2 separate regions of the Homo sapiens genome follow, and region 2 is linked to region 1. Evidence: fine-mapped expression QTL. A gene starts in region 1. The other region holds a variant in brackets. All regions are shown on one strand. Distances are from middle to middle. Region 1 holds the start of TRIM21 (tripartite motif containing 21). Region 2 has its middle 11 kb from the start of SSU72L3.

The links. PIP is the estimated chance that this variant, and not a neighbour inherited with it, causes the effect. A credible set is the group of variants that fine-mapping cannot tell apart.
Region 2: its variant is the best candidate, but not a certain one, in a credible set for the expression of TRIM21 in whole blood (INTERVAL, PIP 0.81).

Annotation. Positions count from the first base shown.
Region 1 is chr11:4,389,972-4,401,018 of GRCh38, forward strand. TRIM21 (tripartite motif containing 21) reads right to left here and starts at 3,731. Exons shown (of 7, transcript NM_003141.4): 1 at 3,662-3,731; 2 at 31-487. The coding sequence starts at 438. RefSeq lists enhancers at 3,622-3,831, 3,852-3,911.
Region 2 is chr11:4,312,938-4,323,984 of GRCh38, forward strand. No RefSeq gene overlaps it. Among named protein-coding and RNA genes, the nearest start is that of SSU72L3, 11 kb to the right of the region's middle. The variant G/C (reference allele first, on the strand shown) is at 5,980.

The DNA of each region.
Region 1 (11,047 bases):
AGCACTCACCAGGTGTCTCTTAGGCCTCACCTGGTACTCCTGTGCAGCCTCCTCAAGAGGGACCATGGCGTGGTCACGGTGTTTCCGAGACTGGGCACATACCCAGCAAAGGGCCTTCCCATCTTTCTCACAGAACAGGTGAAGTCTCTCTCCATGCACTGCACACCGTTCCCCCTGTGTGCCCTCTCTGGCCTCCTGGCTGATTTCTTTAAGGTTGTTCACCATGTTGGCTAGCTGTCGATTGGGCCGGAGATTCTTGAGCAGAAAGCGCTGCCGGCACACAGGACAGACGCTGCCCCCACCTTTCCCAACCTGAGAGATGCATTCCTGGCAGAAGCTGTGGCCACACTCGATGCTCACAGGCTCCACGAAGGGGTCCAGGCAGATAGGGCATGTGACCTCCTCCCACATCATTGTCAAGCGTGCTGCTGAAGCCATTGTCAAGTGTGCCGTTAAACAGCAGTGTGGAGACCTTTAGGGGGTTTGGCTGGGAGAGAAGAAGAAAGGGAAAAGAGAATATGAGAAAGTCTGTGTAAGAAAAACAAAAAGTCAACATAATCCCTATCAAAATACCAATGACATTCTTCACAAAAATAGGAAAAAACAATCCTAAAATTTATATGGAATCACAAAAGACTCAGAATAGCCAAAGCTATCCTGAGCAAAAAGAACAAAACTGGAGGAATCACATCATCTGACGTCAAATTATACTGTAGAGCTAAAGTAACCCAAACAGCATGGTACTGGCATAAAAACAGACACATAGACCAGTAGAATAAAGAACCCAGAAACAAATCTGTACATCCACAGTGAGCACATTTTCAACAAAGCTACCAAGAACATACAGTGAGGAAAGGACAGTCTCTTCAATAAATGCTGCTGGGAAAACTGGATATCCACATGCAGAAGAATGAAACTACACTCCTATGTCTCACCGTATACAGAAATCAAATCAAAATGGATTAAAGACTTAAATCTAAGGCCTCAAACTATGAAACTATTATAAGAAAACATTGGGAAAACTCTCTAGGACATTGGACTGGGCAAAGATTTCTTTCAAATATCCCACAAGCACAGGCAGCCAAAGCAAACTTGGACAAATGGGATCACATCATGTTGAAAAGGTGCTGCACAGCAAAAGAAACAATCCACAAAGTGAAGAGACAGCCCACAGAATTGGAGTAAATATTTGTAAACTATCCATCTGACAAGGGATGAATAACCAGAATATATAAGGAGCTCAAACAACTCTATAGGAAAAAAAATAATAATCTGACTCAAAAATGGACAAAAGATCTGAACAGACATTTCTCAAAAGAAGTCATACAAATGACAAACAGGCATATGAACAGTTGCTCAACATCATTGATTATCAGAAAAATGCAAATCAAAACTACAATGAGATATAATCTCATCTCAGTTAAAATGTCTTTTCTCCAAAAGACAGGCTATAACAAATGCTGGTGAGGGTGTGGAGAAAAGGGTACACTCATATGCTGTTGGTGGGAAGGTAAATTAGTACAATCACTACAGAGAACAGTTTGGAGGTTCTTCAAAATACTGAAGATAGAGCTACCATATGATCCATCAATCCCACTGCTAGCATATACCCCAAAGAAAGGAAATCAGTATATCAAAGAGATATCCACACTTCCATGTTTACTGCAGCACGTTTCACAATAGCCAAGATTTGGAAGCAATCTAAGAGTCCATCAACAGATATATGGATAAAGAAAATGTGGTATGTATACACAATGGAGTACTGTTCAGTCATAAAATATAATGAGATCCTGTCATTCACAACAACATGAATGGAACTGGAGGTCATTATGTTAGGTGAAATAAGCCAGGCACAGAAACACAAACATTGTATGGTCTCACTCATTTGTAGAAGCTAAAAATTAAAACAATTGAACTCATGGAGTTAGATAATAGAAAGATGGTTACCAGAGGCTGGGAAGAGTAATAGGGAGGGTCTGTGTGTGGGGGAGAAGATGGGATGGTTAATGGGTACAAAAGTGGAGTGAATTAGATCTAGTATTTGATAGTACAACAGGGTGACTATAGTCAATAATTTAATTGTACATTAAAAATAAGAGTATAATTGCATAGTTTGTATTACAGATGATCAATGCTTGAGGTGATAGATGCCCCACTTACCCTGATGTGATTATTACACATTGTATACCTGTATCACAATATTCCATATACCCATAAATATACCTACTATGTGCCCACAAAAATTAAAAATATACTAAAAAAAGAAAAACAAAATGATGCAAAGGAAAATAAAAAATAAGAATAAAAATAATGGGTCAGGCACGGTGGCTCACACCTGTAATCCCAGCACTTTGGGAGGCCGAGGTGGGTGGATCACCTTAGGTCAGGAGTTCAAGACCAGCCTGACCAATATGGTAAAACCCTGTCTCTACTAAAAATACAAAAATTAGCTGGGAGTGGTGGTGGGCACCTGTAATCCCAGCTACTTGGGAGGCTGAGGCAGGAGAATTGCTTGAACCTGGGAGGCAGAGGTTGCAGTGAGCCAAGATTGTGCCATTGCACTCCAGCCTGGGTGACACGGCGAGACTCCCTCTCAAAAACAAAACAAAACAAAACAAGGCATAAAATTAATGGCAAAACAATTAATGTCAAAAACAGTAATTACTTTTGCACCGATCAAACAGTTTGTTGAATAAGTTTATTCCTGTTCTGAATAACAAGAACTCCTCCATTGTTTGGTCCATTGATCCAGTGAGACAGAAGGAGAAACTGAGTCCCTAAAAGAGGGAATGAAAATTGGCAAGAACCTCATAAAGCTGTTGACAGTTCTACTCTCATCATGTCCATTCCTGCTTAAACCCTCAGTGCTCATCCATCTCCTGTCGGGTACCAACAGGCCTCCATGTTGCTGAGAAATTATAGCTACTTTTTACCATGTACCTTCCATGTGCCAGAGATACTTCATGCTTTGAATATATCTTCATTAATCCCTCCTATAACGGCGGAAGTCAGTTGCATATATGTATGTAGGTGTATATGTATGTATACACACAGAGTAACAGGAACCGTGGCCAGCACTCCCTGGGCTCTTTTCTCAGCTGCTCCAAACTTAGTTTAGTTCCTGACAACACTTATTCTAGGACAAAGAATAATTCTGAAGGCCTATACATTTCTGGTTGAACATCCTAAACAGCCTGCCCCTCTCACCTCTGGAGGACTTTTGGACCTGGGAGTCTCCAGAATTGCAGACCTCCCCGACACTGGGCTCCCTACCCTCCTGGCTAGGCTGTAGTCCTGGCTATCCCAGCCACACCCAGCCGTCATCCTAGGTCAGGTGCCAGCATGGGGGCAGCCGGGCCCCTTCCCCTTCTGGGTAACTCCACAGTCACGTCCACAACCCAGCCTCCTCCCAGGTAGGGGGCAGCCGGGCCCCTTCCCCTTCTGGGTAACTCGGCAGTCAGGTCCACACCCCAGCCTCCTCCCAAGCAGGGGGCCAGCACCGGAAGCGCAGCTGGTCTTGGGTTGAGGGATCCCTGGTGGGAGAAGGGGCAAATGGGACCGGCTCAAGGATGGAGACTGGAAGGGGCTCTGCAACCCTGGGGCAGGGGAGAGAGGTCCCCTAGGAGGGCAGGGGTCCCTTGATCTAGTGGGGTTCACTCACCTTTACAGGGGACTCAACGCTGGTAGCCAGCTCCCTATTTCACTTTCAGTTTCCGCTCAGAAGCAAGTCTGAGAGGAAAGGGGAGGGAGGAGGAGGAGCCGTGGGAGGAGTGAGGGAGGAGCAGTGGGAGGAGCAGAGCCTTGAAAGGGTGTGTGGAGAAATGCGGCTGAGAAGAGAAGTCAGAGTTGAGCTGGGGGAGGCTTCAGAGGCTCTGCATGCCCAGGAGGCTTCTCTGAGACTGGGAAGGAGTGGAAACTCAGTAGCCCGTGGTCCTGGTTGCGCGCTCCCTCCCATGTCTTCATTATCTGATTTGGTAAAATATCTACAAGACGGGGGAGTCCGGGCTGCTTTCTTTGACACTGGTCATCACTCCACACCTAGACGCTATGTCCATGTCTGGAAGATGCTTTTAAGGAAGTTTTGATGCAGAGAAGAGTGGCCGGTGCTCTTCCTCGCGTGCCACCATCTGCTTACTTCCAGAAGCTAATTATTTTCATGTGACTGATGTGACTAATATTTTTTAACGCCTGCAGGTGAGTGATTTATTTCGCATGACCCCAAGGTGAGTGTCCCACCAGTGAGTGGTGAGAAGGAAATTGACATTTGACAACCAACTGTGTTCTTGTCACTGAGCTAGGGACATTCTCAGGTTATATTATTTTTATTTTTAATCGTAAAAATATAGAACATAAAATTTACCAAAGTAATTTTTTTAATTTTCAATCTTGTGTGTCTATAGTAGGTGTATATATTTGTGGGGTACATGAAATATTTTGATACAGGTAGAGCATACAATCCGTAATAATCATATCAGGGTAAGTGGGGTATCTATCCATCACCTCAAGCACTTATCATTTGTGTTATATACAATCCAGTTATATGCTTTTAGTTATTTTAAAATGATAAATTATCATTGACTGTATTCACCTTGTTATGCTATAAAATACTAGATCTTATTCATTCTCTCTCATGTATTTTTGAACCCATTAATCATTCCCCACTACCCTTCCCAGCCTTTGGTAACCATCATCCTCTCTATCTTCATGAGTTGGATTGTTTTAATTTTTAACTCCCACAAATAAGTGAGAACATAACAATTTGTTTGTTTGCCTGTGTTTGGTTTATTTTACTTAACATAATAATCCCCAATTCCATCCATCTTGTAGCAAATGAAAGGTTCTCCTTCTTTTTATGGCTGAATAGTGCTCCATTGTGTATGTGTACCACACTTTCCTTATCCATTTATCTGTTGATGGACACTTACGTTGCTTCCAAATCTTGGCTATTGTGAATAGTGCTGCGATAAACATGGGAGTGCAGATATCTCTTTGATATACTGATTTCCTTTCTCTTGGATATATACCTAACAGTATTTCTTCTGGGTATATACCTAGCAGTATCCAGTAGGATTGCTAGATTACATGGTAGCTCTATTTTCAGGTTTTTTTTTTTTTTTGAGGAACCTTCAAATTGTTTGCCATAGTGTTTGTACTAATTTCCATTCCCATTGACAGTGTATGAGGGTTCCCTTTTCTACATATCCTTGCCAGCATTTGTTATTGCCTTTCTTTTGGTTAAAAGACATTTTAACTGAGGTGAGATAATATCTCGTAGTTTTGATTTGCATTTCTCTGATGATCAGTGGTGTTGAACACATTTTCATATATCCATTTGCCACTTGTATGTCTTCTTCTGAGGAATGTCTATTCAGATCGTTTGTCCATTTTTGAATCAGATTATTATATTTTTTTCCTATAGAGTTGTTTGAGTTCTTTGTATATTCTGGTTATTAATCCCTTGTCAGATGGATAGTTTGCAAATATTTACTCCAATTCTGTGGGTTATCTCTCTACTTCATTGTTTCCTTTGCTGTGCAGAAGCTTTTTAACTTGATGTGATCTCATTTGTCCAGTTTTGCTTTGGTTGCCTGTGCTTATGGAATATTTGAAAGAAATTTTTGCCCAGTCCAATGTCCTGGAGAGTTTCCCCAATATTTTCTTGTAGTAGTTTCATAGTTTGAGGCCTTAGATTTTTTTTTAAATTATACTTTAAGTTCTAGGGTACATGTGCACAACATGCAGGTTTGTTACATATGTATACACGTGCCATGTTGGTGTGCTGCACCCATTAACTCATTTACATTGGATATATCTCCTGATGCTATCCCTCCCCCCTCCCCCCACCCCAGGACAGGCCTCAGTGTGTGATGTTCCCCTTCCTGTGTCCATGTGTTCTCATTGTTCAATTCCCACCTATGAGTGAGAACATGCGGTGTTTGGTTTTCTTGTCCTTGCAATAGTTTTCTGAGAATGATGGTTTCCACTTTCATCCATGTCCCTACAAAGGACATGAGCTCATCCTTTTTTATGGCTGCATAGCATTCCATGGTGTATATGTGCCACATTTTCTTCATCCAGTCTATCATTGTTGGACATTTGGGTTGGTTCCAAGTCTTTGCTATTGTGAATAGTGCCACAATAAACATATGTGTGCATGTGTCTTTATATCAGTATGATTTATAATCTTTTGGATATATACCCAGTAATGGGATGGCTGGGTCAAATGGTATTTCTAGTTCTAGATCCTTGAGGAATCACCATACTGTCTTCCACAATGGATGAACTCGTTGACAGTCCCACCAACAGTGTAAAAGTGCTCCTGTTTCTCCATATCCTGTCTATCACCCATTGTTTCCTGACTTTTTAATGATCGCCATTCTAACTGCTGTGAGATAGTATCTCATTGTGGTTTTGATTTGCATTTCTCTGATGGCCAGTGATGATGAGCATTTTTCCATGTGTCTGTTGGCTGCATAAATATCTTCTTTTGAGAAGTGTCTGTTCATATCCTTTGCCCACTTTTTGATGGGGTTGTTTTTTTCTTGTAAATTTGTTTGAGATCTTTGTAGATTCTGGATATTAGCCCTTTGTCAGATGAGTAAATTGCAAAATTTTTCTCCTATTCTATAGGTTGCCCATTCACTCTGATGGTAGTTTCTTTTGCTGTGCAGAAGCTCTTTAATTAGATCCCATTTGTCAATTTTGTCTTTTGTTGCCATTGCTTTTGGTGTTTAAGACATGTAGTCCTTGCCCATGCCTATGTCCTGAATGGTATTGCCTAGGTTTTCTTCTAGGGTTTTTGTGGTTTTAGGTCAGAATAACCAATGCAGAGAAGTCCTTAAAGGACCTGATGGAATGGTGCTATCCAGCCCAGATACTATGCTTTTCCCATGGTCTATGCAACCCACGGACCAGGAGATTCCCTTGGATGCCTACACCACCAGGACCCTGGGTTTGAAGCACAAAACTGGGTGGCTGTTTGGGCAGACACTGAGCTAGCGGCAGGATTTTTCATGCCCCAGTGGCGTCTGGAACACCAGCAAGACAGAACTGTTCACTCCCTTGGAAAGGGGGCTGAAGCCAGGGAGCCAAGTGGTCTAGCTCAGTGGATCCCACCCCCATGGAGCCCAGCAAGCTAAGATCCACGGGTTTGAAATTCTTGCTGCCAGTGCAGCAATCTGAAATTGACCTGAGATGCTTGAGCTTGGTGGAGTGAGGGGCATCCACCATTACTGAGGCTTGAGTAGGCGGTTTTCCCCTCACAGTGTAAACAAAACTGCTGGGAAGTTCGAATTGGGTGGAGCCCACCAAAGCTTCGCAAACCTGCTGTAGCCAGACTGCCTCTCTAGATTCCTCCTCTCTGGGCATGACATCTTGAAAGAAAGGCAGCAGCCCCAGTCAGGGGCTTATAGCTAAAACTCCCATCTCCCTGGGACAGAGCATCTGGGGGAAGGGGTGGCGGTGAGCACAGCTTCAACAGCCTTAAACATTCTTGCTTGCCAGCTCTGAAGAGAGCAGTGGATCTCCCAGGACAGTGCTTGAGCTCTGATAAGGCACAGACTGCCTCCTCAAGTGGGTCCCTGACCCCTGTGCCTCCAGACTGGGAGACACTTCCCAGGAGGGGTCAACAGACACCTCATACAGGAGAGCTCTGGTTGGCATCTGGCGGGTGCCCCTCTGGGACAAAGCTTCCAGAGGAAGGAACAGGCAGCAATCTTTGCTGTTCTGCAGCCTCTGCTGGTGATACCCAGGCAAACAGGGTCTGGAGTGGACCTCCAGCAGACCTGTAGCAGAGGGACCTGTTAGAAGGAAAACTAACAAACAGAAAGCAATAGCGTCAACCTCAACAAAAAGAATGTCCACACAAAAACCCCATCCAGAGGTCACCAATATCAAAGACCAAAGGTAGATAAATCCATGAAGATGAGGAAAAACCAGTGCAAAAAGGCTGAAAATTCCAAAAAACAGCACACCTCTTCTCCTGCAAAGAATCACAACTCCTTGCCAGCAAGGGAACAAAACTGGATGGAAAATGAGTTTGATGAATTGACAGAAGTAGGCTTCAGAAGGTGGGTAATAAGAAACTCCTCTGTGCTAAAGGAGCATGTTCTAACCCAATGCAAGGAAGCTAAGAAACTTGAAAAAAGGTTAGAGGAATTGCTAACTAGAATCATCAGTTTAGAGAAGAAGATAAATGACCTGATGGAGTTGAAAAACATAGCATGAGAACTTCATGAAGCATACACAAGAATCAATAGCCGAATTGATCAAGAGGAAGAAAGGATATCAGAGATTGAAGATCAACTTAATGAAATAAAGCATCAAGACAAGATTAGAGAAAAAAGAATGAAAAGGAACAAGCAAAACCTCCAAGAAATATGGACTATGTGAAAAGACCAAACCTCCATTTGATTGGTGTACCTGAAAGTGACAGGGAGAATGGAACCAAGTTGGAAAACAGTCTTCATGATACTGTCCAGGAGAACTTCCCCAACCTAGCAAGACAGGCCAACATTCAAATTTGGGAAATACAGAGAACACCACAAAGATACTCATCAAGAAGAGCAATCTTAAGACACAATAGTCAGATTCACCAAGGTTGAAATGAAGGAAAAAATGTTAAGGGCAGCCAGAGAGAAGTGTCTGTCCACACAGGGAAGCCCAACAGACTAACAGCGGATCTCTCTGCAGAAACCCTACAAGCCAGAAGAGAGTGGGTGCCAATATCAACATTCTTAAAGAAAAGAATTTTCAGCCCAGAATTTCATATCCAGCCAAACTAAGCTTCAGAAGCAAAGAAGAAATACAAACCTTTATAGACAAGCAAATGCTGAGAGATTTTTGTCACCACCAGGCCTGCCTTACAAGAGCTCCTGAAGGAAGCTCTAAATATGAAAAGGAAAAGCTGGTACCAGCCACTGCAAAAATATACCAAATTGTAAAGACCATTGACACTATGAAGAAACTGCCTCAACTAACAGGCAAAATACCCAGCTAGCATCATAATGACGGGATCAAATTCACACAGATCAATATTAACCTTCAATGTAAACAGGCTAAATGCCCCAATTAAAAGACACAGACTGACAAATTGGATAAAGAGTCAAGAACCATTGGTGTGCTGTATTCAGGAGACCCATCTCATGTGCGACGACACACATAGGCTCAAAATAAAGGGATGGAGGAATATTTACCAAGGAAATAGAAAGCAAAAAAAAAAAAAGCAGAGGGTGCAATCCTAGTCTCTGACAAAACAGACTTTAAACCAACAAAGAACAAAAAAGAAAAAGAAGGGCATTACATAATGGTAAAGGCATCAATGCAACAAAAAGAGCTATCATTAATATATATGCACCCAATACAGGAGCACCCAGATTCATAAAGCAAGTTCTTAGAGACTTACAAAAAGACTTAGACTCCCACACAATGATAGTGGGAGACTTTAACACCCCACTGTCAATATTAGACAGATCAAGGAGACAGGAAATCAACAAGGATATTCAGGACTTGTACTCAGCTCTGGACCAAGCAGACCTAATAGACATCTACAGAACTCTCCACCCCAAATCAGAGAATATACATTCTTCCCTGCACCACATTGATTGTACTATTCTAAAATTTACCACATAATTGGAAGTAAAACACTCCTCAGGAAATGCAAAAGCATGGAAATCATAACAGTCTCTCAGACCACAGTGCAGTCAAATTAGTACTCAGGATTAAGAAACTCACTCAAAACCACCCAACTACATGGACACTGAACAAACTGCTCCTGAATGAATACTGGGTAAATAATGAAATTAAGTCAGAAATAAATAAGTTCTTTGAAACCAATGTGAACAAAGACACAAAGTACCAGAATCTCTGGGACACAGCTAAAGCAGTGTTTGAGGCAAATTTATAGCACTAAAATGCCCACAGGAGAAAGCAGAAAAGATCTAAAATTGACACCTTAACATCACATTGAAAATAACTAGAGAAGCAAGAGCAAACAAATTCAAAAGCTAGCAGAGGCAAGAAATAACTAAGATCAGAGAAGAACTGAAGGAGATAGAGACATGAAAAACCCTTCAAAAAAAATCAGTGAGTCCAGGAGCTGGTTTTCTTGAAAAGATTAACAAAATAGATAAACTGCTAGCCAGACTAATAAAGAAGAAAAGAGAGAAGAATCAAACAGATGCAATAAAAAATGATTAAGGGGCTATCACCACTGATCCCACAGAAATACAAAGTACTATCAGAGAATATTGTAAACACCGCTATGCAAATAAACTAAAAAATCTACAAGAAATGGATAAATTCCTGGACACATACACCATCCCAAGACTAAACCAGGAAGAAGTCGAATCCCTGAATAGACCAATAACAAGTTCTGAAATTGAGGCAGTAATTAGTAGCCTACCAACCAAAAAAAGCCCAGGACCAGATGGAGTCACAGCTGAATTACACCAGAGGTACAAAGAGGAGCTGGTATCATTCTTCTGAAACTATCCCAAACATTAGAAAAAGGGGAACTCCTCCCTAACTCATTTTGTGAGGCCAGCATCATCCTGATACCAAAACCTGGCAGAGAAACAACAAAAAAAAAATTTCAGGCCAATACCCTGATGAACATCAATGAGAAAATCCTTAGTAAAATACTTATAAACCAAATCCAGCAGCACATCAAAAAGCTTATCCACCATGATCAAGTTGGCTGCATCCCTGGGATGCAAGGTTGGTTCAACATACACAAATCAGTAAACATAACCCATCACACATTAATATTCTCTGATGGTAGTTTGTATTTCTGTGGGATCAGCGCTGATATCCCCTTTATTATTTTTTATTGTATCTATTTAATTCTTCTCTCATTTTTTAAATTATACTTTAATTTTAGGTTACATATGCACAACATGCAGGTTAGTTACATATGTATACATGTGCCATGTTTGTGTGCTGCACCCAGTAACTCGTCATTTAACATTAGGTATATCTCCAAATGCTATCCCTCCCCCCTCCCCCCCACCCCACAACAGGCCTCAGTGTGTGATGTTCCCCTTCCTGT
Region 2 (11,047 bases), 77 kb before region 1:
ATAAGAATAAGTTACTTAGGAATATATTTAGCCAAGGAAGTGAAAAACCTGTACACTGAAAACTAGAAAACATTGATGAAGGAAACTGAAGAAGACACAAATAAATGGGAAGATAGCCTCTGTTCATGGATTGGGAGAATTAATATTGTTAAAACATCCACACTACCCAAAGCAATCTACAGATTCAGTGTAGTCCCTATCAAAATACCAATGACATTCTTCACAGAGGTAGAAAACACAACCTTAAAATTATTATGGAACCATATAAGACCTTGAATAGCCAAAGCACTCTCAAGTAAAACATGAAAAATAAAATACAAAAACCAAAACTGGAGGTATAATAACACCTGACTTCAAAATATACTACAAAATATATTATAAAGCTATAGTAATTAAAACAGCAAGGTACTAACGTTAACAAAAGGACACAAAGACCAATGGAGCAGACTAAAGAGCCTAGGTATAATTCCACACATTTACTGTCAATTGACTTTTGCCAAAGGTGGCAAGAACAGACAAGGGGGACAATCAGTGTCTTTAATAAATGGTATTGGGATAACTCAATATCCACAAACAAAAGAATAAAATTAGATCCTTATCTCACTCTACATACAAAAATTACATCAAAATGGATTAAAGGCTTAACTGTAAGACTAGAAACTTTAAAACAGCTAGTAGAAAATGGGGGAAAAGCTTCATGACATTGGTCTGGGCAACAATTTTTTGAATAAGAATCCAAAAGCATAGGCAACAAAAATGAAAATTGGCAGAATTATTTGAAACTAGAAAAACTTCTGCATAGGCAGGAAATAACAGAAGAAAAAGGCAATCTATGGAATGGGAGAAAATATTTGCAAACCTTTATCTGATAAGGGGTTAATAGCCAAAATATATAAATAATTCCAACAACCCAATAGTAGGGAATAAACTTCTTAAAAAATGGGCAAAGCACCTAAATAGGCAATTCTCAAATAAGACATACAAATGGCCCATAGGTAAATGAAGAAAAGAAAAAGGTCAACAAAATTAATCATCAGGGAAATGCAAATTAAAACCACAATGAGATATCACCTCATACATGTTAGAATGACTATTAACGAAAAGACAAAAGATAAAAAGTGTTGGAGAGAATGGGGAGAAGGGGAACCCTTGCACATTGTTGGTGGGAATGTTAGATAGTATAACTATTATGGAAAACAGTATGGACAGTCATAAAAAAATTAAAAATAGAACTAGCTATGATCCAGCAATCTCACTACTGTGTATATATCCAAATATATGAAATCAGTACGTTGAAGACTCTAACTTCTAGTTCAAGTCCAAGGAACCCCTCTCATCACTCCATTTGCAGAGGAAAAACAATTCAAATATGAGCTGTCCCAGGATGTACAGCAATCGGCTTGTAGTTATAGGGGTAGTGCTTATTGAAAGAGGCTAAGCAAAAATACACTGAGAATAAATGCTGTTTTTTTTTTCCTTTGTCCACTTTTGTATGGGGTAATCATTTCTTTCTTTTTAGAATGGTAAGCTCTAGAGGATAAATATTTGGATGAAGGCCATAGGAAAAGGGGCCACAGAGGCCTGTTTAATAGAGACTTCAGGTCTGAGATACAAATGAGTCCTCCCAGCTCACAGTTGGTAGCTCAGTTCATGACATTATCTAGAGTTTGCACCAACATTCAGCTAGTATTAAAGACTTTGCTCACAACTGTTGCAAGGACAGAAAACCAAACACCACATGTTCTCACTCATAGGTGGGAATTGAACAATGAGAACACTTGGACACAGGGTGGGGAACATCACACACTGGGGCCTGTCTTGGGGTGGGGAGATGGGGGAGCGATAGCATTAGGAGAAATACCTAATGTAAATGATGAGTTAATGGGTGCAACAAACAAACACGGCACAGGTATACATATGTAACAAACCTGCACGTTTTGCGCATGTGCCCTAGAACTTAATGTAAGAAAAAAAAATAATTCTGCTCAGGAGGAACATCTCTGTGTATCTTCTTGCTGAGCCTGTGGTGGTAATAGGTAAGAGGCAGCTACTTGAGCTCCTGGAGTTCTTAGATGCGGGCATCTCTTTTTCAGAAGATGCAACCAATATTTTCTAACAGGACCTGGAGAATCATTTTATTTTAAAATCCCTCATAGTTCCAATGTTTAGATCACCTGTGGTTCTGTCGCTATTTTTTTCCACTTTTTTTTTTAGTTATTTGTTAGTTTCTTGGCATGCTTGGTGTGTGTGAATGGATAGTGATTTTATATGAAAAAACTAGAGACTCTGTTCTCTGAAACTGTTACGTTTCTCTAGAAAGAATTCAGGCAGATAAGGGTACTGGCAGATCTTGATCCATCTGAGAGGACGCTTAACTTTTGCTAGTGCTAGCGTTGATCTTTTTCTGGGTTGTCCTTACTCCTAGAGTACAGCCCTTCTAGTGTTTCAAAGCTTCCTAGTGTTTCAGTGTTTATTTACAAGGGTTGCTCTACCTCCTCAGGCCCTGACCTCCAGCCTCTGACTCCCCAGCACCATCAGACTGCTAGTCTTTGCATAACTGTTTAGCTTCACAGCTGCTGCTTTCAATTCAGGTGCTGAGAATCTTGCCCTGAACATGCACAGCTTAGGAATTGGCAAACTCCTCAAGGGGAATCGGCACGCTGAACTTTGGCCCAATTTTCTCTAAGGCTGCCTCTTCTATCTCAGGTCTCAGACTCCATGGTATCCCTGAACTGCAACTTCTTTATTCCTAGCCTGCTGGGTTTCACTCGCGTCCGTGTGAAGAGACCACCAAACAGGCTTTCCGTGAGCAGCAAGGCTGTTTATTTCACCTGGGTGCAGGCGGGCTGAGTCCGAAAGAGAGTCAGCGAAGGGAGATAGGGGTGGGGCCGTTTTGTAAGATTTGGGTAGGTAAAGGAAAAAGGGGGTTGTTCTCTGGTGGGCAGGAGTGGGGGGTCACAAGGCGCTCAGTGGGGGAGTTTTTGAGCCAGGATGAAGCAGGAGAAGGAATTTCACAAAGTAATGTCATCAGTTAAGGTGAGGACCAGCCATTTTCACTTCTGTTATGGTGGAATGTCATCAGTTAAGGCAGGAACAGGCCATTTAAATATCACTTCTTTTGTGATTCTTTAGTAGCTTCAGGCCCTCTGGATGTATACAAGCAGGTCACAGGGGATATGATGGCTTAGCTTGGGCTCGGAGGCCTGACATTCCTGTCTTCTTATATTAATAAGAAAAATAAAATATAATAGTGTTGAAGTGTTTGGGCAGTGAAAATTTTGGGGGGTGGTATGGATAGATAATGGGCGATGTTTCTCAGGGATGCTTTGATTAGGGGCAGCGTGGGAACCTCGAGTGGGAGAGAGTAAGCTGAAGGAAGATTTTGTGGTAAGGGGTGATATTGTGGGGTTGTTAGAAGAAACATTTTTCGTATAGAATTATTGGTGATGGCCTGGATATGGCTTTGTATGAATTGAAAAAAGAGCAGAATAAGACAGAGAGAACAACAGGTATTAAAGGACTAAGAATTGGGAGAACCCAGGACATTTAACTAGAGAGTGCCTAAGGAGGTTCAGCATAGCCCTGCCAGCAAAGATTATTTACTTTAGGAGGGAGTTAATAATGGCAGTTTGGGGATAGCACCATGAGATATCAGCTGTGATGGCTTGGAGAGACAGTGTAAACCGGCAGTGTAAACAAGAGCAGGGCATTTATGAGTAGTTGAGAATGGTGAATAGGAGTATGACTAGATAGAAGATAGTAGGGAAGACAAGCTTTTTTTTTTTTTTTTTTCGGGGGCGGTCGCAGTCCAAGTTGGTCTGGTGTCTGGAATGAGACTGGGGCCTAATAAAAAGGAGCGTCTACCCCGTCTCTACTAAAAATACAAAAAAAAAAATTAGCCGGGCGCGGTGGCGGGCGCCTGTAGTCCCAGCTACTCGGGAGGCTGAGGCAGGAGAATGGCGTGAACCCGGGAAGCGGAGTTTGCAGTGAGCCGAGATTGCGCCACTGCAGTCCGCAGTCCGGCCTGGGCGACAGAGCGAGACTCCGTCTCAAAAAAAAAAAAAAAAAAAAAAAAAAAAAAAAAAAAAAAGGAGCGTCTATAGAGCAGTTCAAATGGGCTGTACCCTGCAGCATTCTGAGGACAGGCCTGAATTCTGAGAAGGGCAAGTGGTAAAAGTATTGCCCATTCCTTTTTAAGTTGGTGACTGAGCTTGGTGAGGTGAGTTTTTAAAAGACCATTAGTTCACTGAACACTAAGAGCCTGAGAAACTGCTTGGGTGATTTGACTAACAAAGGCCGGTCCGTTATCGGACTGTATAGAGGTGGGAAGCCCAAACTGAGGAATTATGTCTGACAGAAGGGAAGAAATGACTGCGGTGGCCTTCTTAGACCCTGTGAGAAAGGCCTCTACCTATCCAGTGAAAGTATCTACCTAGACCAAGAGGTATCTGAGTTTCCTGACTCGGGGCATGTTGAGTAAAGCCAATTTGCCAGTCCTGGGCGGGGGCAAATCCCCGAGCTTGATGTGTAGGGAAGGGAGGGGGCCTGAATGATCCCTGAGGAGTAGTAGAATAGCAGATGGAACACTGAGAAGTGATTTCCTTGAGGATAGATTTCCACGATGGAAAGGAAATGAGAGGTTCTAAGAGTTGGGCTGTTGGCTTGTTCTATAGCATAGCCTGCCTTTGCTGGTGTGTGGCGATTAGGCCTGGTGGAACTGCCATCAATAAATCAAGCGTGATCAGGGTGAGGAACAGGAAAGAAGGAAATATGGGGAAATGGGGTGAATGTCAGGTGGATCAGAGAGATACAGTCATGAGGGTCAGGTGTGGTATCCGGAATAATGCGGGAGGCCAGATTGAAGTCTGGGCCGGGAACAATGGTAATTGTGGGAGACTCAACAAAGAGTGAGTATCGCTGAAGGAGCCGGGAAGCAGAAAGTATATGCATCAGGTGTGAGGAAGAAAATAGGTTTTGGAAGTTATAAGAAGTATAGAGAGTGAGTTGAGCATAGTTTGTGGTTTTGAGGGCCTCTAAAATTATTAAAGCAGTGGCAGCCACTGCACGCAGACATGAGGGCTAGGCAAAACAGTAAGGTCAAGTTTTTTGGACAGAAAGGCTACAGGGTGCGGTCCTGGCTCTTGTGTAAGAATTCTGACTGCACTAACCATGCCTAGGAAGGAAAGGAGTTGTTGTTTTGTAGAAGGGATTGAGGTTTGGGAGATTAGTTGGACATGATCAGCAGGGAGAGCACGTGTGTTTTTATGAGAATTATGCCGAGATAGGTAACAGATGAGGATGAAATTTGGGCTTGACTGAAGCAATGGGAGCTGTCTGTGAAGGCTTGTGGCAGTACAGCCCAGGTAATTTGCTGAGCCTGATTGGTGTCAGGGTCAGTCTAAGTGATGAAGGGTGCAAAGGGATAGTAAAGAAAGCATGTTTGAGATCCAGACAGAATAATGGGTTGTGGAGGGAGGTATTGAGGATAGGAGAGTATATGGGTTTGGCACCACGGGGTGGAGAGGCAAAACAATTTGGTTGATAAGGCACAGATCCTGAACTAACCTGTAAGAAAGACTTGTCTGGTTCTAGGACAGGTGAAATGGGGGAACTGTAAGGGGAGTTTATAGGCTTTAAAAGTCCATGCTGTAGCAGGTGTGTGATAACAGGCTTTAATCCTTTTAAAGCGTGCTGTGGGATAGGATATTGGCGTTGAGGCGGGTAAGGGTGATTAGGTTTTAATAGGATGGTAATGGTCATGTGATCGGTTGCCAGGAAGGGAGTAGAGATGTCTTATACTTGTGGGTTAAGGTGGGGGGATACGAGAGGAAGATACAAAGGAGGCTTTGGGTTGGGAAGAAGGGCGGCAATGAGATGTAGCCCAGGAATAGACAGGGAAGCAGATAATTTAATTAAAATGTCTCGGCCTAATAAGGGAGCTGGGCAGGTGGGGATAATGAAAAAGGAGTGCTTAAAAGA[G/C]TATTGTCTAAGTTGGCACCAGAGTTGGGGAGTTTTAAGAGGTTTAGAGGCCTGGCAGTCAATACCTGCAACAGTTATGGAGGCAAGGGAGACAGGCTCTTGAAAAGAAGGTAATGTGGAGTGGGTAGCCTCCTTATTGATTAAGAAGGGGATGGACTTACCTTCCATTGTGAGAGTTACCCAGAGCATCTGTGATGGTCCTGTAGGCTTCCGAGGTGATCGGGCAATGTCAGTCTTCAGCTGCTAAGCCGAGAAGATCTGGGAAGGAGTCAGAGAGCCTTGGGCCAGAGTTCCAGGGGTTCTGGAAGTGGCTGCCAGGTGAGTTGAACAGTTTGATTTTCACTGGGGTCTCGCACAGATGGGACACGGCTTAGGAGGAATCCTGGGATGTGGGCATTCCTTGGCCTAGTGGCCAGATTTCCAGCACTTGTAGCAAGCTCCTGGGGGAGGAGGTTCTGGAGGAACCCCCGGCAGCAGCAGTTCAGGCATTTGGAGTTCTTGTGTGCTGGAGATGTGGCTGGGGTTTCGCTCACAGTGGAGGCAAGGAATTGCAACTCAGAAATATGTTGCTACTTGGCTGCCTCTACTCTATTATTGTACACCTGGAAGGCGAGGTTAATTAGATCCTGTTGTGGGGTTTGAGGGCCGGAATTTAATTTTTGAAGTTTTTTCCTAATGTTGGGAGTGGACTGGGTGATAAAATGCATATTAAGAATAAGGCGGCCCTCTGGCCCTTCTGGGTCTAGGGCAGTAAAGCGTCTAAGGGTCACTGCTAAGTGGGCCATGTACTGGGCTGGGTTTTCATCTTTACCTTGGGTAGTTTCTTTCAGCTTGTCATAATTAACAGCTTTGTAAGCTGCCTTTTAAAGCCGTTCAATTAGGCGGGAAATCATGTAATCTCACCTAGCTATACCTGGGGAATCTGCCTGATAGTTCCATTGGGGATCCTCTCGAGGAACTGCTCTAATACCTTCCTGGAGGTCTGGCTCATGAAGCCGGTGGTTATCAGCATGAGATTGGGCTAGAGAAAAAACTCATTCTCGTTCACCTGGGGAGAGGGTAGAAGTCAGGATGACATTTAAGTCACTCCAGGTTAAATTGTAGGACAGAGTAAGATATTGGAATTCCTGTATGTATTTAGTGGGGTCTGATGAGAAAGAGCCTAAACGCTGACTGATCTGAGAGAGGTCTGATAGAGAAAAAGGTACATGTACCCTGACTATGCCTTCAGCTGCAGCCACTTCTCTAAGAGGAAATTGTTGGGCAGGTGGGGAAGAGCTAGTCACGGAACTAAACTGTAAGCTGGACTGGGTGTGAAGAGGGGAGGTGATAGAAGGATTACAGGGTGGAGGAGTGGAGGCTGAGGAAGAATGGGGACCTGGCTTGGCCTGGCGAGGAGCAGCCTGGGGAGGAGGGGAGAAGTCAGATGGGTCTGTAGAAAAGGAAGATTAGAAAGACTCAACTATGCTTGGGATTGGGACTGAGAGGACAGGAGGGAGGGAAAGAAGGAGTATTTGGGATGAGTCACACTGGGAACAGAGACTAGGGAAGGAACAATGTGTAAAAGAATGCCTGGACATCAGGCACCTCAGATCATTTGCCTATTTTACGGTAAGAATTATGTAGATCTTGTAGGATGGAAAAATCGAAAGTGCTGTTTTCTGGCTATTTGGAAACACTGTTGAGTTTGTATTGGGGTCAGGCGGCATTGTAGAATAAAATAAGGCATTTAGGTTTAGGTCAGGTGTGAGTTGAAGAGGTTTTAAGTTCTTGAGAACACAGGCTAAGGGAGAAGAAGGAGGAATGGAGGGTGAAAGGCTGCCCATAGTGAAGGAGGCAAGCCCAGAGAAAAGAGAGAGTAGAGACATGGAGAGAAGGGGTGGGGGGTGCTTGCACCCAGGAAAGTGGAGAAGGGGTAGAGACATGGAGAGAAGGGGTTGGGGGGTTTTTGCCACCCAGAAAAGCAGAGAAGGGGTAGAGACACGGAGAGAAGGGGTGGGGGGTTCTTGCCCTCCAGAAAAGCGGAGAAGGGGTAGAGACACGGAGAGAAGGGGTGGGGGGTTCTTGCCCCCCAGAAAAGTGGTACTTGCCACTAAGGGCGAAAGACCAAGGCAGGCATCCCTGTGTGGTCAGACACCTCTGAAACGTGGATGAATAATCAGGTGTCCCCGTGTGATTAAACACCAAGGGAAGACTGTCTTCCCGAGTCCATGACCGGCGCTGAAGTTTTGGGTCCACGGATAAAACTCATCTCCTGTCTGTAGGAGAAAAGTAAAGAAACTGAAATTAAGAGAAGGGAGAGATTGAAGTGTGGTGCCAAGATTGAAAGGAGCAAGAAGTTGAGGGATAGTGAGAGAGGTTGGAGAAGAGAGTAAAAAGAGGCCACTTACCTGATTGAAAATTGGTGTGATGTTCCTTGGGCTAGTTGGTCTGAGGACATGAGGTCGTAAGTGGATCTTTCTCACAGAGTGAAAGGCAGGAGGACACGGGATTGATCTCCCAAGGGAGGTCCCCTGATCCGAGTCATGGCACCAAAATTTCATTCACGTCTGTGTGAAGAGACCACCAAACAGGCTTTGCGTGAGCAACAAGGCTGGTTATTTCACCTGGGTGCAGGCAGGCTGAGTCCGAAAAGAGTGTCAGCGAAGGGAGATAGGGGTGGGGCCGTTTTATAAGATTTGGGTAGGTAAAGGAAAAAGGGGGTTGTTCTCTGGTGGGCAGGAGTGGGGGCTCACAAGGTGCTCAGTGGGGGAGTTTTTGAGCCAGGATGAGCCAGGAGAAGGAATTTCACAAAGTAATGTCATCAGTTAAGGCAAGGACAGGCCATTTTGTTTTCTTTTGTGGTGGAATGTCATCAGTTAAGGCAGGAAGAGGCCATTTAAATATCACTTCTTTTGTGATTCTTCAGTTGCTTCAGGCCCTCTGGATGTATACATGCAGGTCACAGGGGATATGATGGCTTAGCTTGGGCTCAGAGGCCTGACACTGAGAATGCTACAAGCTCCCACTACCTTTCAACTTGGTCTTTGTTGCACATGCCAGGACTTAGCAAATGCTCTGAGGGCAAAAGCAGAGGCAAATGCAGCTTGCATAGCTGCACTAGTGTACATTCTTTCCAGCAATCTTCCCTTCAAGTCCCACTTGGATTGTTTTTTTCTTTAACAACTTTGGTTGCTTTAAGTATTTTACCTAGCTTCTATGTTTACTATTGATTGGAAGGTTAGTACAAGCTCCTCCATTTTGCTCAGATGTTGGATGTAGTTTCTGCTTATCCACAAGTGTCCCAAAGCCCCAAGGGACTGGTTTAGGATTTATCCTCTGTCACCTGGATGATCACACCAGACTTCTAACTGGTCTCTGCTTATAGGCTTACCCTTTCCAATCCATGCTAACTCAGGAAAATGATACATCGGTTGTATTTTTCCAAAATTTCTTATAGTATACATTTCTCAGATAATAAACTATGGCTTCTGGCTTCCCCTCTCTACCTACAGTGCTGCAGACTTGGTTCAAAAATTAGGAACTGGCAAGCCATGCTTTGGGAGGCCCAAGTGGGAGGATTGCCTGAGGTTAGGAGCTCGAGACCTGCCTGGCCAACATAGTGAGACCCCATCTCTAGAAAAAAAAATGAGCTTGGCATGGTGGTACACTCATATAGTTCTAGCTACTTAGGAGGCTGAGGATCACTGGATTCCAGGAGTTCAAGGCTGCAGTGAGCTTTGATTGTGCCACTGTACTCCAGAGTAGGTGACAGAGCAAGACCTTGTCTCTAAAAAACAAAACACAATTAAGAACTGAATTCCTAAAGTATCCAGGTACTGTATGAGCAGTGAGCCAAGATGAATATGCACAGTTCTGGTCATTGAGTCTAGTATAATGAGGATGCTAGAACTATGAAAGATAACCTCAAAGTTGTAATTTTTATGATGTAATCATGCCCCTGACACTACAGGAGCCTAGATAATGGCATGGGCCTAGTTAGTACAATCCCCTTGCTGGGCTAGAGTCAGCAATGAGCTGTAATAGGAAGTCATTGTCTGTCAATACTGACACAAGGAACATTTACCGAGCATTTACTATGTTCTAGGAACTTTTCTGGCTGATCTGGAAGGGCAGATAAAGAAGTCTACCTTTTGCCCTCAAGGGGTTTGCAGTCTATTAGGAGACAACCCTGCCAAACAGTAACATACCAGGTTGTTTGAAACACATCAACAACAAAACAACAACGCCAAACAAAACAGAAACAGGAGCAAATCTATTTTTTTAAAGAGTTGAGAAGAATAGCACAAATACATAAAATGAAAAAGAAGAACAATCTTCAAAATAGAAAATGGATTTTATTATGAATTATTATAAATAAACTTCACAAAACAAGGTGTACAAATGTACCATAAACACATGAGGTGATGCTCAGCATCTTTAGTCATCAGGGAAATGCAAACCAAAATCCCAAAATTCCACTCAGAAACACTAAATGGCTAAAATAGAAAAGGTGAGAAAGAATGAATGTTGGTGAAGTTGTGGAACAATGGGGACGCTGATGCTGGGAATGTAAACTGATTAAACCACTTTGGAAAAAAAACTTGGCAATTCTTAGGAAGTTCAACATATATTTATCCTATAGCCCAGACATTTCAGTCTTAGGTACTCACCCAAGAGAAACTGGTTGCTTGAGGGCCTGAAGGGAGAACTGGTAGGGGGTGCTTTATGAGTGTTGTCAGTTAGGCCCTGGGCTTGCGATCCGAGGAGGGAAGAGGAGAGAGGCTGATTTTGGTATCCTGAGATTCTTCATGGACCCAAGAAGCCAAAGTGAAATCCTGAAGTGGGTTGAAGGGGACCAGGAATCTCAAAGGCTTTATTTAGGTGCATCTGAAGAGATCTGCTGCTTGCTTTGTTCTTTACTACCAGACTTGGGCCAACAGAGACCACTTTGTCTTCTAGCATCTCTGGGACTGCTCCTGTTAGGGGAAGAAGGTATCTGAGTTACCTAAGGTGAATCCATACGGGTCTGCAGCAACCTCAGTTCTTATCTCTTCAGAGCAGCAAGAATTCGACTAAGAGGCATAAG